Linked DNA regions of Homo sapiens: region 1 is linked to region 2. A link means that fine-mapping ties the variant in region 2 to the expression of a gene that starts in the linked region. Tissue or cell type: whole blood. Region 2 holds a variant in brackets; the other region holds the start of a gene. All regions are shown on one strand. Distances are between the middles of the regions.

Evidence for each region. PIP is the estimated chance that this variant, and not a neighbour inherited with it, causes the effect.
Region 1: CNPY3 starts here. The variant in region 2 is fine-mapped to the expression of CNPY3 in whole blood (TOPMed, PIP 0.97).

Annotation. Positions count from the first base shown.
Region 1 is chr6:42,924,609-42,932,694 of GRCh38, forward strand. It overlaps CNPY3 (canopy FGF signaling regulator 3), which reads left to right and starts at 4,872. Exons shown (of 6, transcript NM_006586.5): 1 at 4,872-5,113. The coding sequence starts at 4,963. PTCRA (pre T cell antigen receptor alpha) reads left to right here. Exons shown (of 4, transcript NM_138296.3): 4 at 653-1,230. The coding sequence ends at 1,074. CNPY3-GNMT (CNPY3-GNMT readthrough) reads left to right here and starts at 4,872. Exons shown (of 5, transcript NR_134892.2): 1 at 4,872-5,113. RefSeq lists enhancers at 4,265-4,766, 4,351-4,400, 4,411-4,460, 4,767-5,268, 4,911-5,170 and 1 more.
Region 2 is chr6:42,659,199-42,667,299 of GRCh38, forward strand. It overlaps UBR2 (ubiquitin protein ligase E3 component n-recognin 2), which reads left to right. Exons shown (of 47, transcript NM_001363705.2): 30 at 458-657; 31 at 2,986-3,079; 32 at 4,060-4,221; 33 at 6,211-6,314; 34 at 6,969-7,047. It also overlaps the pseudogene RNU6-890P. Among named protein-coding and RNA genes, the nearest start is that of PRPH2, 59 kb to the right of the region's middle. The variant C/T (reference allele first, on the strand shown) is at 4,336.

The sequences.
Region 1 (8,086 bases), 270 kb after region 2:
GGTGATGGAAAGAGCCTGGACGGACAGTCATGAAGTTGGGCTGTGGTCCAACTCTGCTTCCCGACCAAATAGAGAATTTTGAGGCCGGGTGCGGTGGCTCACACCTGTAATCCCAGCACTTTGGGAGGCCGAGGTGGGTGGATCACGAGGTCAGGAGTTCGAGACCAGCCTGGCCAACATGGTGAAACCCCGTCTCTACTAAAAATACAAAAATTAGCCGAGCGTGATGGCACACGCCTGTAGTCCCAGCTACTCAGGAGGCTGAGGTAGAAGAATCACTTGAACCCGGGAGGTGGAGGTTGCAGTGAGATGAGATCGTGCCACTGCCCTCCAGCCTGGGTGACAGAGTGAGACTCCATCTAAAAAAAAAAAAAAGAATTTTGAGCTAGTTACTCTCTGCATCAGATGCTAATTAATTCCTGCGTGGCCCCCACCCCTACCCCCATGATTGTTGGGGAATAAAATAAAATGAAGGCCAGGAAGGTATGTATTATTACCAGTAAGAACGGAGGCTAGACACCGGGAAGGACTTTCCCTGGAGGAGGGGGTGAAGGGGACGGGCAAGGGCAGAGGACAAGGCCCTCTCCGCCGTTCTCTCCTGGGGTAGGGGGCTGCGGGCTCCTGCGGGCTCCTGAGCGGTTCCTCCTCGCAGGGACACCGGGTGGGGCGCTGTGGCTGGGGGTCCTGCGGCTGCTGCTCTTCAAGCTGCTGCTGTTTGACCTGCTCCTGACCTGCAGCTGCCTGTGCGACCCCGCGGGCCCGCTGCCTTCCCCCGCAACCACCACCCGCCTGCGAGCCCTCGGCTCCCATCGACTGCACCCGGCCACGGAGACTGGGGGACGAGAGGCCACCAGCTCACCCAGACCCCAGCCTCGGGACCGCCGCTGGGGTGACACCCCTCCGGGTCGGAAGCCCGGGAGCCCAGTATGGGGGGAAGGGTCTTACCTCAGCAGTTACCCCACTTGCCCAGCACAGGCCTGGTGCTCAAGATCTGCCCTCAGGGCTCCTTCCTCCAGTCTTGGAGCATTTTTTGCAGGTGACCTGCCTCCTCCTCTGCAGGCTGGAGCTGCCTGAGGGCAGGGCTCTACCTCCCCTGCGTCACACTGTGTGAGGCTGTGTCTCTGCCATCCAAAAGGGGGCCCCTTGAGAATGGTGATCCACCCAGTTACAGGGGCATTTAGGGAGCAGATGACTGAGAACATTAAAAAAGAACTTAAATGACACAGCAAATGAAAAATATTTGAATTCATGTCTATCCTGGGAGGAAGGAATTTGGCAGAGTTAGAAGTAGGAAAAATCCAGGAAAGCTCCCTTGAGGAAGAGGGCTTCCTGAGACAGAACTTGGGAACTGCAGAGTGGGACTGGTGGCTGGGAAGGCGGCTGTCTCCTCCCCCAACAGCAAGCGGGGAGGCCCCCTCTTCTCCTCACCCTGGCCCAACCTCTGTGAGAGGTCAGGGCAGAGAGCCCAGGAACCCAGGAAGGTGGGTGGTGGGTCTGATGTGAACTCTCGTACAGAGGTGAACAGGGCCAGGGTTTCTGGGGAACAGGATCGTTTTCAATAACAAGAGTATGAGATATTAATTCCAAACTTACAGTTTATTAATCAATTAAGAGTCATTATTCATTTGACAAATATTCTTTAAGTATCAACCCTGAGCCAGGTACTAAAGAGGTTTGGCTTTTTTGGTCTGGTTGTTACATAAAGAAGATTCTTGTATTGATCAAGTATGAGGCTTCCACAGTAGAGCATAACGTGTGCGTCCCCTGCTTGCCCAGCGCTGGCAGGAAATCCAGACTTTCCCAAGGGTTCTCTGCTAGTAATCACTCCAAGAGACTCTGGGTGCTGTCATGTAAATCCACCTGTCCCTTGGGCCCCATAGGATAGTCTGCTGGATCAACTTTAGTCTTCCTTCCCCCAGGGAGGGGATGGGGAACTATGCCCCAGCACCCCAACACATGGTTTCAAGGACACCCTCAGCTCCCCTGAGCCTCTGTGCTCTCTCAGCTACTGTTCCATAAAAACTCTCACTGCCTCCTCCACTGCTCATCTCTCACCAGCCTGAAAGGAGATTCTCCCACTTGTTTTGGGGATTCTTGGGTGCTGGTGGCTGGGGTGGGAGGGTCCCATAGCTTCTACGGATGAATCTGTCCACCATCCCCACAAGGCATGTTCCTTCTCTGACACACAGACTGAGGGAGGGTGTGGGCAGGGGCCCAACTATAGCCTCAGACTTTCTCTGGCCACTATCCCTTCCTAGCTGTCCGGCCAGATGCTGAGCCCAGGCTTCTCAATCTCCACTGTCAGGCTGGCTTAATCTTATTTCCCAGGAGGGCTTCTGAGCCGAGGTGAATCAAGGGCCATGGCCAAGCTCTGAGCCTACCCAAGTATTTTATTTTATTTTATTTTATATTTTATTTTATTATTTTATTTTTTGAGATAGGGTCTCACTCTGTCCCCCAGGGTGGAGTGCAGTGGTGCGATCTCAACTCTCTGCAATCTCTGTCTCCCAGGTTCCAGCAATTCTCCCACCTCAGCCTCTCAAGTAGCTGGGACTACAGGCACACGCCACCATGCCTGGCTCATTTTTGTATTTTTTGGTAGAGACAGGGTTTCACCACATTGGCCAGGCTGGTCTTGAACTTCTGACCTCAAGTGATCCGCCTGCCTTGGCCTCCCGAAGTGCTGGAATTATAAGTGTGAGCCACTGTGCCCAGCTTGAGCCAACCTAAGTCTTATCAAGCCTAGAAAACATGGAGGACCTTAGGAGGGTGTCCTGATCTTGTACACTGTGGAATTCCACATGCCACAGCCCCTGCCTATCCAAAGTGCTTTGTTACCAACACAGTTTTGGACAAGAAACTAAAGTCAGAAAGTGGCAAGGCCTGGGCCTCAGTGCTCTGAAGTCTTCATAAAATAGCATAAATATCCAACCTCTAGGAAGGAAACAAGAAGGTATCAGGGAACAGGGTTTTATGGCCAATTTGCAGACAACTTCCCAGAGAAGCAACTTTGGTCTGTGTGCGTCTGTAGGACACTGAGTTCAGGGGCAGCCTAAAGAAGACCAAGAGTGCTCCTCTTTATTTTTATTTGTTTATTTTTATTTTTTGAGACGGAGTCTCGCTCTGTCGCCAGGCTGGAGTGCAGTGGCGCGATCTCGGCTCACTGCAACCTCCACCTCCAGGGTTCAAGCAATTCTCCCGCCTCAGCCTCCCAAGTAGCTGGGACTACAGGCACCCACCACCACGGCTATTTTTTTTTGTATTTTTAGTAGAGACAGGGTTTCACCATATTGGCCAGGCTGGTCTCGAATTCCTGACCTTGTGATCTGCCCGCCTTGGCCTCCCAAAGTGCTGGAAATACAGGCATGAACCATCGCGCCCGGCATTTATTATTTTTGAGATGGAGTCTTGCCCTGTCGCCCAGGCTGGAGTGCAATGGCGTGATCTCGGCTCACTGCAACCTCCATCTCCCAGGTTCAAGCAATTCTCCTGCCTCCACCTCCCGAGTAGCTGGGATTACAGGCGTGTGCCACCACGCCCGGCTAACTTTTTGTATCTTTAGTAGAGATGGGGTTTCAGCATCTTGGCCAGGCTGGTCTTGAACTCCTGACCTCGTGATCCACCTACCTCGGCCTTCCAAAGTGCTGGAATTATAGGCGTGAGCCACCAAGCCCGGCCTCCTCTTTATTTTTTATTTTGATTTATTTATTTTTGAGATGGGGGGGGTGTCTCGCTATGTTGACCAGGCTGGTCTCGAACTCCTGGCCTCAAGCAGTTCTCCCTTCTTGGCCTCCCAAAGTGCTGGGATTACAGACATTAGCCACGGCGCCTGGCCTTTTTCTTCTTCTTCTTCTTTGTTGAGACAGGGTCTCAATCTGTTGCCCAGGCTGGTCTCCAACTCCTGGGCTCAGGTGATCCTTCCGCCTCGGCCTCCCAAAGTGCTGGGATTACAGGCGTGAGCCATTAAGTGTTCCCCTTAATGACACAGCAGATGAGAGTTTTACTGAGTATCTCCTTGTGCCAGGCACCCTGTTGTTGCTGGGGAAGCGGAAGGGAGAGACAATCGTTAATCGGCTAAATTTCTGCCTTCTGAGAGCTCAGAATCAAGAAATAAATAATAGGGCAGTAAAAGGGGCTGGGATTACATACAAAAAGAAAATTAATGCCTGAACTTTTTACAATCTGCTCGATAAGCTTTAATTCTATTAACCTATTTGAGCTTCCCAACAACAGGCAAGCTCCCACAGCAGCTAGGAGGATCACTTTGTCGTCATACAAATAGAAACAGGCTCAGAGAGGAAGTCATTTGTTCTAGTTCTCACTAGGACAAATCTACTGGCTACTAAAAAAGTGTGAAGGCTGGGGACAGTTTGAGTCGTCCTGCTTGCACCTTAAGCGCCTACAAGAGTGCCCGGCTATAACAACCACAATACCAATAATAAAATTTAAAAACAGATGTTCAGTAAGGACTTGCGGCATTAGGACCCCAGGAGGGAAGTGACGTTCGAGGAGGCGGAGAAAGCCGCGAAGACGGCCTTCCCCACATCTTCCAGCACCTGCGCGCCTGAATCCGTCCCACCCAGGCCCAGACGCAGGCTTCTTCTCGGGTCTTGGTCCTGCATCCTCTCTCTCCCAGAGCCTCCGTTAGGGGGTGGGAAAGGACTTTGCCATAGGTCGCTGAGGCCACCATCTGCTCTCTTACTGGCCAAGGGCGTAAAAAGATAGTCTTCCCATTAGCTAGAGAGCAAACCCCAGAAAGCCTATTGGCTGCGCCGTCCGCGGGCCTTGGTCCGCTTTGAAGGCGGGCTGCGGCTGCGAGAGGAGGGCGGGCGGGAGGCTAGCTGTTGTCGTGGTTGCTCGGAGGCACGTGTGCAGTCCCGGAAGCGGCGAGGGGAAACTGCTCCGCGCGCGCCGCGGGAGGAGGAACCGCCCGGTCCTTTAGGGTCCGGGCCCGGCCGGGCCATGGATTCAATGCCTGAGCCCGCGTCCCGCTGTCTTCTGCTTCTTCCCTTGCTGCTGCTGCTGCTGCTGCTGCTGCCGGCCCCGGAGCTGGGCCCGAGCCAGGCCGGAGCTGAGGAGAACGACTGGGTTCGCCTGCCCAGCAAATGCGAAGGTGAGGAGGCGGGGCCCGTGGGGCGTATCCTGCCGGAGGGGCTGGCTCCAGCGGTGGTGCTTGCGGAGCAGCGTCGGGGGTTGCAAGGTTCCGAGCTCTGCAGGGTGTCTTCCTTCCTTGAACAGGCTTGCGCCGGGACGCTGCGGCGGACGAGAGATCTGGTCCCGGTACCCCTGGAGTTCACACATTGGTAGAAACAAGCAATGATAATTCAGAGTAGTAGATGCCATGATAGGGGAGGTACAGAGCTTCCTTTTGGGGGCCGGACGAGGAGCATCTGGTCTAGCCTGGAGTGGGGGAGGGGGTGGGCGAAGGCTGTGTGCAGAGGGGAGTCAAAGAGGGCTTCATACAGGAAGCACGAAGAGGCATTAGGAGTTAGCCGGATGAAGAGAAGTGGAAAGAGAGGGGCCCACTCAGGAAACTACAGAGGCAGAGGCCTGCCGGCTGAGAAGCTAAGAACGAGTTTGAGGAACTGAAAAGCTCCAGATGACTCATCTTGGGGGAAAAAAACCTAAGACTTTCCCCTTTTGCCCTCACTGCAACCCAATCTGTGTAGTTGTCTGTTGCACCCACTAACAACTCCTCGAAGGCAGGAATTTTTGTCTTAGATACGTATTCACACAGTGTCTGGTAGGCACTCAATAAATGTTTTGAGAATACAGATGATTAAATGGGAGACTGTGGGTGTGTGTGAGGAGGAGGATCTGGATCTGAGGAGCCCTTTGGGGGAACAATAGAGCCTATGGGGAACTTGAAAGAAGATTTTAGGACTTTGGAGAAAAGGTGAGTCCCAAAGACATAGGCGTTGAGGAACTACAGAGAGAGAGAGAGAGGGAGCTACCAGCGAGCCAGGACTATAAAGGACCTATTTCTTTTTCCTCAACTCCGTCCCTTAGTTTTCTCCTCAGACCTTACAGTCATGCCTGCCTTCCTAGCCCCGTAACCCCAGGGCCCCCAGAAAGTTGGCTGTGAATCTCTCATCTGAATTGAAAGCCTACATCAGGCCAGATGTTCCCTAAACACTGGAAAGTGGGTTTGGGGTAAGTTTCGGACACATAATCCTTCCATTAGAGAGATTAAAAGGATGCTTTAGAGATAAGCCGACTTCACTGGTAGGGCACCCAGTATGAGTTCAAGCCTGTGCCTTCCCCCGTACATTCTTTTCTTTTTTTCCTTTTTTTTTTTTATGAGACTGTCTGGCTCTGTTGCCCAGGCTGGAGTGCAGTGGCGAGATCTCGGCTTATTGCAACCTCTGCCTCCTAGGTTCAAACGATTTTCCTGTCTCAGCCTCCTGAGTAGCTGGGATTACAGGCGCATGCCACCATGCCCAGCTAATTTTTGTGTTTTTAGTAGAGATGGGATTTCATCATATTGGTCAGGCTGGTCTTGAACTCCTGACCTCAAGTGATCCACCTGCCTTGGGCTCCCACAGTGCTGGGCTTATAGGCGTGAGCCTCTGCTCCTGGCCGCCCTTTCACTTTTCGCTCTTCCTCTAGTCCTGATAGCTTTTTTTTTTTTTTTTGAGATGGAGTTTCGCTCTTATTGCCCAGGCTGGAATGCAGTGGCGCGATCTTGGCTCACCGCAACCTCCAGTGACCCACCCTCCTCGGCCTTACAAAGTATTGGGATTACAGGCATGAGCCACCGTGCCTGGCCTTTTTTTTTTTTTTGAGACGGAGTCTTGCTCTGCCCAGTCTGGAGTGCAGTGGTGCGACCTTGACTCGCTGCAACCTCCGTCCCCCAGGTTCAAGGATTCTTCTACCTCAGCCTCCCGAGTAGGTGGGACTACAGGTGTGTGCCACCACTCCCGGCTATTTTTAGTAGAGACGGGTTTTCACCATGTTGGCCAGGCTGGTCTTGAACTCCTGAACTCGGGTGATCCACCCACCTTAGCCTCCCAAAGTGCTGGGATTACAGGCGTGAGCCACTGCACCCAGCCCAGCTAACTGATAGCCTTTCAGCGTTTCGCTTCCTCTTCTCTTTCTTTTCTGTCTTATTATTATTATTATTATTTTTTTTTGAGACGGAGTCTTGCTCTGTTGCCCAGGCTGGAGTGCAATGGCACAACCTCGGCTCACTGCAACCTCTGCCTCCAGGGTTCAAGTGATTCTCCTGCCTCAACCTCCTGAATAGCTGGGATTACAGGCACCTGCCATCATGCCCGGGTAATTTTTGTATTTTTGTAGAGACTGGGTTTCACCATGTTGGCCAGGTTGGTCTTGAACTCCTGACCTCAGGTGATCCTCCCACCTCAGCCTTCCAAATTGCTGGGATTACAGGCATGAGCCTCCGTGCCCAGCCTGTATTCTGTCTTATTCTGATATCAAAGAGCCCATACTCTCCCTCTTATTATTCTCATAGCCTAAGGAGCTCACATTTATTCTCCTTAGGCAACATTCACAGACTCACGGAAGCATAGAGATGCCCAGGATCTCTATATCTCTATATCTAGAGATCATTCTAGTCTACCCTCATTTGGTAACTGATGAAGATTAATTGAAAAGGGATTTGCAGTCACAGGATGGCTTGGCAAACTCCAACCGTTAGGTTCATCTTAATAGTATATTTGTTTGTATTATTATTACACCTTTGTTATTAAATGCTGACTGTGTCTAGCCCACCAAGCCTGCCTCCTGGCTCAGTAGCCTGAGTGGAACAGGCCTCGGCACAGAGGAAGGAGAACCTGCCCGGAAAAAAAGAGTGGGTGGATGTCAGTGAGGGTCTGGTGTCTGTGCCGTGAATCTCCTGTGAGTCTGGTTCTGGGTGGGATCCGCAGAGGAGGTCTTGAAGAGGTAATGTTTGGAAGAGCTGGAAAGCAAGGCTGTGGTTGATGGGTATGAGAGAGAAAGGATGTTCCAAACCTCCCCTTTCCCCACTCCTGGGGAGGGCGTGGGAGGAGGGGCAAGTGGTGCTAGAAAAATGATGTGCCTGCACAGAGTACAGGACAGAAGAGGGGAGGGAGCCCAGATGGTC
Region 2 (8,101 bases):
AATATATACATTCCTGGCTGTGCGTGGTGGCTCACGCCTGTAATCCCAGCACTTCGGGAGGCCAAGGCGGGCGGATCACAAGGTGAGGAGTTCGAGACCAGCCTGACCAACATGGTGAAACCCCATCTCTACTAAAAATACAAAAAAAAAAAATTAGCCGGGTGTGGTGGTGCATGCCTATAATCCCAGCTACTCAGGAGGCTGAGTCAGGAGAATTGCTTGAACCTGCGAGGCGGAGGTTGCAGTGAGCCAAGATTGTGCCACTCACCCCAGCCTGGGTGACAGAGCAAGACTCTGTCTCAAAAAATAAATAAATATATATACACACACACACACACACACACACACACACACACACACACACTACACACACACACACATACCTGTAGTCTGCTATTTTGTGATTATATAGAAAGTTTTGGGATCATTAATTATATTCATAACCTTTGTATTGCAGCCCTGTGGCTTCAGATATGACACTTACAGCACTGGGCCCCGCACAAACTCAGGTTCCTGAACAAAGACAATTCGTTACATGTATATTGTGTCAAGAGGAGCAAGAAGTTAAAGTGGAAAGCAGGGCAATGGTCTTGGCAGCATTTGTTCAGAGATCAACTGTATTATCAAAAAACAGAAGTAAATTTATTCAAGATCCAGGTAAGTCATAGCTAGATCCTCATCTTCCCTTTTAATAACAACTGCCAGTTAATGTGGTTGGTGATACGTTGAGATTTTTTAAACCTAAAAATAACTCCATGGACTTGGATGGTATCTTTGGCAGGTAACTTAGGCAGGAATTCCCCACTTGGCAGATGTGGAACCACTCCAGAAAGTTGCACCTGAATCACATAGCTGATAAATAGCAGGGATTCAAAGAAAAGCTTTTCTTTGTGATGTAACATTACATACTTTGGCATTTCACAGTCTTTTCCATCCTTCAGTACACTTGCAAAGTCCTGGTCATTTGTTGACACACTGAAATAATAATTGTTTTGTCTTATTGATAGAGCCTGAGTGGAATCTCCTGAGAACAGTGATGGAGAGTTACCTATGTAAGAGGCAATCCTTGAGCCAAATTGTTTTAGAATAGTAATACCACCACAGATCGGGTTCCCCAGAAAGCAGATTCTTGGGATACAGATTACCGTGCAGGACAGTTGAGGGCCCTCTTTCAGCAACTGAGGGAGTAAAGCAGGGAGATCCAGTCCGCACATGATTTTGTCCACCACAGACACATTTATTTCTCTGCTTGTAGGTTGTGCTCTGTGTGCGTGTGCTTCAGCGATACCCAGTAAACTTCTTGAGAGTAGGAACTGTGTCTTGGGAATTCCCAGAGCACTGCTTTAACCAGTGCCTTTCACACTGCAGCGTGAAAGGAGGTTTGAGAGCCCACTTTTAGAGTTGCCTTCTCTCTGTAAAGAAAGTCTTTGCATCCTACTTATGAAAGGTTGGTCTGCTTCATCTTTAAAAATGGTCATTTAGGCTGGGTATGGTGGCTCATGCCTGTAATCCCAGCACTTTGGGAGGCCGAGGCAGGTGGATCACCTGAGGTCAGGAGTTCAAGACCAGCCTGGCCAACATGGCGAAACCCCATCTCTACTAATAGTACAAAAAAAAAACTAGCCAAATTTGGTGGCACGCGCCTGTAGTCCCAGCTACTCAAGAGGCTGAGGCATGAGAATTGCTTGAACCTGGGAGGCAGAGGTTGCAGTGAGCCGAGATTGCACCACTGCCCTCCAGCCTGGGCAACGGAGCGAGACCCTGTGTGGTTTTTTTGTTTGTTTGTTTGTTTGTTTTTAAAAAAAAAAAAAAAGGCCAGGCGCAGTGGCTCATGTCTGTAATCCCAGCACTCTGGGAGGCCAAGGCAGGCAGATCACAAGGTCAGGAGATCAAGACCATCCTGGCTAACACAGTGAAACCCCATCTCTACTAAAAAATACAAAAAAAAATTAGCCAGGCGTGGTGGCAGTTACCTGCTACTCGGGAGGCTGAGGCAGGAGAATGGCGTGAACCCAGGAAGCAGAGCTTGCAGTGAGTCGAGATCGCGCCACTGCACTCCAATCTGGGCGACAAAGCGAGACTGTCTTAAAAAAAAAAAAGATATTTAAACTAGGTGCTTTATAAATTTCATTCCAGGCCAAAGACAAAGTTGCTAATTTTATTTAACTTATTACTTCTGAAGAAAAAGCATTAGCTGGCTATAAGTGGATTTTCTTAATGCTTTGACATTTGCACTGTTCTAGTGTTAAAGCAAATTAAAACTATTAAAGCAAATTAAAAGTAGTTCTTTCTAGAGTGTTAGGAAATTTCGAAGATTATACTAATTTATATAAAGAATTCAAAAATTCCAAAAGAAGCCAGACATCCATCTTGTTTTTCATGATTTTTCATCCCCTTTGAATATAAAAATTAGCACCAGGACAGAAGACTCTGAATTACCTTTTTTCCCCCCATCTGATCTGGTCTGTGCTTAGATTTTTTGTTGTCACTTTGGCTCTGATGTGATTATTCGCTGTATGAGTGTTGTTAGGCAGTCTGTCCTCTAGGGGGCGCCCCGTTACTGCCAAAACATTTTTTATTAGCGATCATTTTAACCCAGCTGCCCTGAACGCACATAAGGCAGCCCCATGAAGAGAGTAGCTCTTTTACCTGGAGCTCAGGGTACAATGGGAGGAATTGGAATATCTCAGCACCCTGAAAGTGTGAAATGTTCAAAAGATTGGATATATTTAAATTCATAGTTCTAATTTCAGTTTAACAATTTGAGAATGTTTAATTAATTTGCTGTGGGTGGTGAAAATTAGAGAGTCCTACTTTCTAAATAATCCAAGGTGTTGCATAAATTGGTATCTCAGAGGAATAAACTAGCATTTCATTTCAAATTTCAAGTCTTTATCAAGGATTTTACAATTTAAAGTTACACATTTGTTATAGGAAAATTAAATGCTTCACTTTTGTTTTGTTTTGTTTTGTTTTGTAATGCAGAAAAATATGATCCATTATTCATGCACCCTGATCTGTCTTGTGGAACACACACTAGTAGCTGTGGGCACATTATGCATGCCCATTGTTGGCAAAGGTAATGTATATTCTTAATATTTGTCAAGAGAAGTTTATCTAAGGGCTCAATATTTTTTAAATAGAGGAAATTTCATTCTAGAAAAAAGGAAAAGAACTAAAAATGTTGAAAAAATCCGTATCATTGCCTAATAAATAACAAAAGTTATTTGCCTTGTCATAGATGTAAAGTGTATGTCAGATATGTTTTTTAATTTAGCTTTATATCCAAGTCTCTTCTATATCTTCCAAAGAAGGAAGTGGATCTGTATCAGTCTGTGGATGAAGAAAAGGGTTTTTACAGTAGGATAAACTCTAGAAGGGTAATGTTGTCTTTCTTTGGGTCCAGGGTGGACAACTTTTGATTCCATAGATGTTAGTACTTGCTTTGTTACTTCCCAAAATTGTAATGGCTCCCTGTGATGAGATGTCCTGAATTTGTTCTACCTTGGTGTTTCCTATGCTTCTACAAAACCAACAAATCAATAATACTATTATTCTAGAACTATGCTCACCCAGTTATCATGAACTACCCCTAACAACTAGCCACCACATTGTAGTCCCAGCTACTTGGGAGGCTGAGACAGGAGAATTGCTTGAATGTGGGAGGTGGAGGTTGCAGTGAACCAAGATTGTGCAACTGCACTCCAGCCTGGGCGACAGAGCAAGACTCCATCTCAAAAACAACAACAACAACAAAAAAAAAACAAATAGCCACCAGCCTTGGGGAAGTGGCAAGAGAACAATGACACCAAGAAATTTTTGTTGCTGCTTTGTGAATGCTTTTTTACATGGCAGTCTTTTTTTTTATTTTACTCTTTTAGAACTTTTAATCCATTTGGATTTTTAAAATCACTCAAAAATCATGTTAAAAATAATTTAGTTTAAGATTTTCATTTTTGAACTATTTGTGGAAACAAATTATTTTAAATGTTGAAGCTTATGGCTGTCATTTATGTAAATTACCATTGTTTTGATACCTCATGTTCTCTAATTGTAAAGGTATTTTGATTCCGTTCAAGCTAAAGAACAGCGAAGGCAACAGAGATTACGCTTACATACGAGCTATGATGTAGAAAACGGAGAATTCCTTTGCCCCCTTTGTGAATGCTTGAGTAATACTGTTATTCCTCTGCTGCTTCCTCCAAGAAATATTTTTAACAAGTAAGTTTTGGCTCATGACAACTATTACAAAGCAATAGTTTGCTTTGAAGATAATGAAATAATAAATCAAGGAGGAAAACTTAGTCTAGGCAATTGCATAGTGTTTTCCAGATA[C/T]TTTCCAAACTCTAATCATTTTCTTCTAGCAGACCTGTGGAATGTGATTTTAGTTTTTAGAGAGGAACAGGTGAAAATTTAACAGTTTCTAAGCTATTAAATTCCTATGTATTTATGAAAACCAAGTATCTGGTTTATTTCTAGGGACCCTACTTTTAATATCTTCCATACACTTTTCAAGAGATGCTCAGTAAACTGGTAGAGGGAGATGGAACAACTCAAACTGACTTTATAGGACAGTCTAAAAATCGAATAAAACTTTTTGCTGTACTGGCCATTCATAGTTTTAAGAACCAGGCAAAAAAGTGAAAATCTGTTGGTATATTTTAAATGGAAAAATCTCAGCTGGGCGTTGTGGCTCACATCTATAATCCTAGCACTTTGAGAGGCCAAGATGAAAGGATCATTTGAGCCCAGGAGTTCAAGACCAGCCTGGGCAACATAGTGAGACCCTGTCTGTACAAAAAATAAAAAGTTAGCTGGATGTAGCGGCATATTCCTATAGTCCCAGCTACTTCAGAGACTCAGGTGGGAGGCTCGCTTGGGTCAAGGCTGCAGTGAGCTTTGATCATGCCATTGCACTTCAGCCTGAGTGACAGAGCAAGACCCTGTCTCAAAAATAAAATAAGTGCTTGCTTCAGCAGCACATATACTAAAATTGGAACGATAAAGAGAAGATAAGCATGGCTCTTTCACAAGGATGACACACAAATTCATGAAGTGTTCCATATTTTTAGCTCTTTTAGAATTTGTCTAGCAGACTAAAAAAAAATAAGAAAAGAAAATGGAAAATTTCTGTAACTTCACAGTTTTTTGGATGCTTTTAGTTACGAGTATTGGACATACTCATTTCGAGTATGAATTTGATAATGTCTGCTTTTCGAATCTGAACTTCATTTCTCAATGTAGAATTATGCTATCTACGTTGCATGCACAAATACTAAGTTATGTGAGTATAAACGATCCATTTCTGTGTTATTTGGATTCAGTTCAAAGCAAAGTCAGTTTTTTCTTGTCAGTTTTAGGAGTTCAAACTTTGGTGTTCTTAGTCTATGCTACCACAAAATGTTCTTAAAATATTAGTAGATTTGAGTGTAAGCTCATGCTTTTTAATTATAAAAGAATATCGTGGTACTGACTTATCTGCATTTGAACTGATGAAGAAATTAATTATTGTTAGATGGAGGATTAACTGTGTATAAGAAGAAATCACCCTTGTTGGATTTCATCTGTCACTTTATTGGTCCAATTTTTGGGTTTTGCCCATGAGATTCAATTATGGTTTAGTCATATTCGAATACAATCATAAAAAGAACACAGGCTTTGGAATCTGACAGAGCCAAGTTTGAATGCTAGCTTTGTCCCTTATTCGGCCTTAGTCAAGTTACATAGCTCTAAACCTCAGTTTCCTCATCTGTAAAATGGGGACAATAATAAAACCTATTACAAAATATAGGAATACAACCTATGCAAATAATAATACAACCTGAAACAAAATGTAGGGATATTTTGAGGATTAAGTCTAATACCATAAGATATTTACAGTAAAATTCCTTACTAAGTGCTTGTAACATAATAAGCACTTGGTAGATATTAATAGTGATGGTGATTATGATACTTAAGAAATTCTAGCAAATTCCAATACTGAAGAGTGAGATTTTTAATACACAGTGTTATTACCATCATATTGACAAATAATATATTCCTTTCCATTGGCCAATATCCTGATTTTTTTTAATGCAACAAATTTTCCCTTATCCTTTTTGTTTTTAATATTTGGAGTGTGTCTAAAATATGCCTGTGATCATTTAAGGAGTCTTTTGTATCTTAAGGAACAATAATAAAACACTAAATACTCTCTATAATCTTTTCTAGCAGGTTAAATTTTTCAGACCAACCAAATCTGACTCAGTGGATTAGAACAATATCTCAGCAAATAAAAGCATTACAGTTTCTTAGGAAAGAAGAAAGTACTCCTAGTAAGTTCTGGTAACCTGTTTTCATTTTTCCCTAAAGTCCGAGGTCATCAGAAAATGTATTTCCAGAAGAAGTTGTTTAAAAGTGAAACCTCCCATTTAAAATTTTGACTCATTCTAATTTTCCTTGTCTTAATAAACTAAATTTGACTTTACTGCATTACTCCTTATTCCTTAAACACACAAGCTCATGTGAAGTTTCTAATAAACACTTCTCACTTATTCCCCCATTTTATTGAAGAGCTTCTGGAGGTGGGGGAGATGTAACTGAGTGTTGCAGAGCTAGCTTTAGTTCTCGGTGGGCTAACTCACCTTACTGTTGGCATTACCAAAGGCTTCCCAAGTTTCATAGACCATGCACTGCACTTATGACCTTGTGGGAACGTAGTATGAACAGGATTTATATCATTGGTTTTCATAGAAACAGAATAGCTACTCTTGTTTTTGTTTTAGTGGCTGTACTATAAGGAAAAGCATAGTTAAGAAAGGGCCTTGGTCAACTAGAGCAATAACGTTTTCATGCTTCATATGGTTGTTATGCCAGTTTTTATTAGGGAATTTTTTTCCTTTTGTTTTTGATTTCTTTGACCTATATGGCTGTACTTTTAGGAATATTGTCATCTATTGAATAATAGTATAAAATGCCTGTTTCTATAGATAATGCCTCTACAAAGAATTCAGAAAATGTGGATGAATTACAGCTCCCTGAAGGGTTCAGGCCTGATTTTCGTCCTAAGTGAGTATATTATTTTACTCCTTTAATATTTGACCCATTTGAAATGAATGATTAAGTCAGCAGTTAGGAGGAATATGATTTGGCAAGTGAGGGAGCAAAATGTTATAGGATACTGATCTTTAGTTGTAAGGTTTAAGCAGAGGCTGAGACAGGAGGATAGTGTGAGCCCCAGAGGTGGAGGCTGCAGTGAGCCTTCATTGCACCACTACATTCCAGTCTGGGTGACAGAGTGAGACCCTGTCTCAACAACAACAACAAAAAAAGTTTAAGCATTACTTGATGGTATTTATTGCAGTACATTAAAAAAATCTAAGAACCATGTGGCATGTTTAACTCTCACCACCCTCTCCTAGTCAGCATTGCTGACCCCTGCCACACCCCTTTCTTTACCTGGCTCTCCTTGACAACATCTAATCAGTAATTCTAAATACAAACTGCTCAGCCTCCCCAATGAATCCCGCACTTCCGTCTGACTTCAAAATTTCTATTAATGACCTAACCAAGCTCTTAGTAACCCAGGATTAAAACCAGAATATTTTCCACCCTATTTTACCCCATAGCCAGTTAGTTACAAGGTATAGCATAGATTCTGGAGCTAGACTGGTTGATTCAGTTCCCAGCACCACCACTTATTAGCTGTGCAACTTTGGGCAAATTGCTTGACCTCTGTGTACCTCAATTCCCTCATCTGTCAAGTGAGGATAATTCATAGGTGTTATTAGGATAAAGTGACATAATGTACGTAGAGCTACCTGAAAGCTGTGCCTGGCATGTACCAAGTAACTCAATAAATACAGACCTAAAGACTTGAATAGAAAAAAACATCATGCCTATAATCCCAGGACTTTGGGAGGCCATGGCGGGCAGATCACTTGAGGTCAGGAATTCAAGACCAGTCTAGCCAACATGATGAAACCCTGTCTCTACTAAAAATACAAAAATTAGCCAGGCGTGGTGGTGCACGCTTGTAATCCCAGCTACTTGGGGGGCTGAGGCAGGAGAATCGCTTGAACTTGGGAGGCAGAGGTTGCAATGAGCCAAGATCATGCCACTG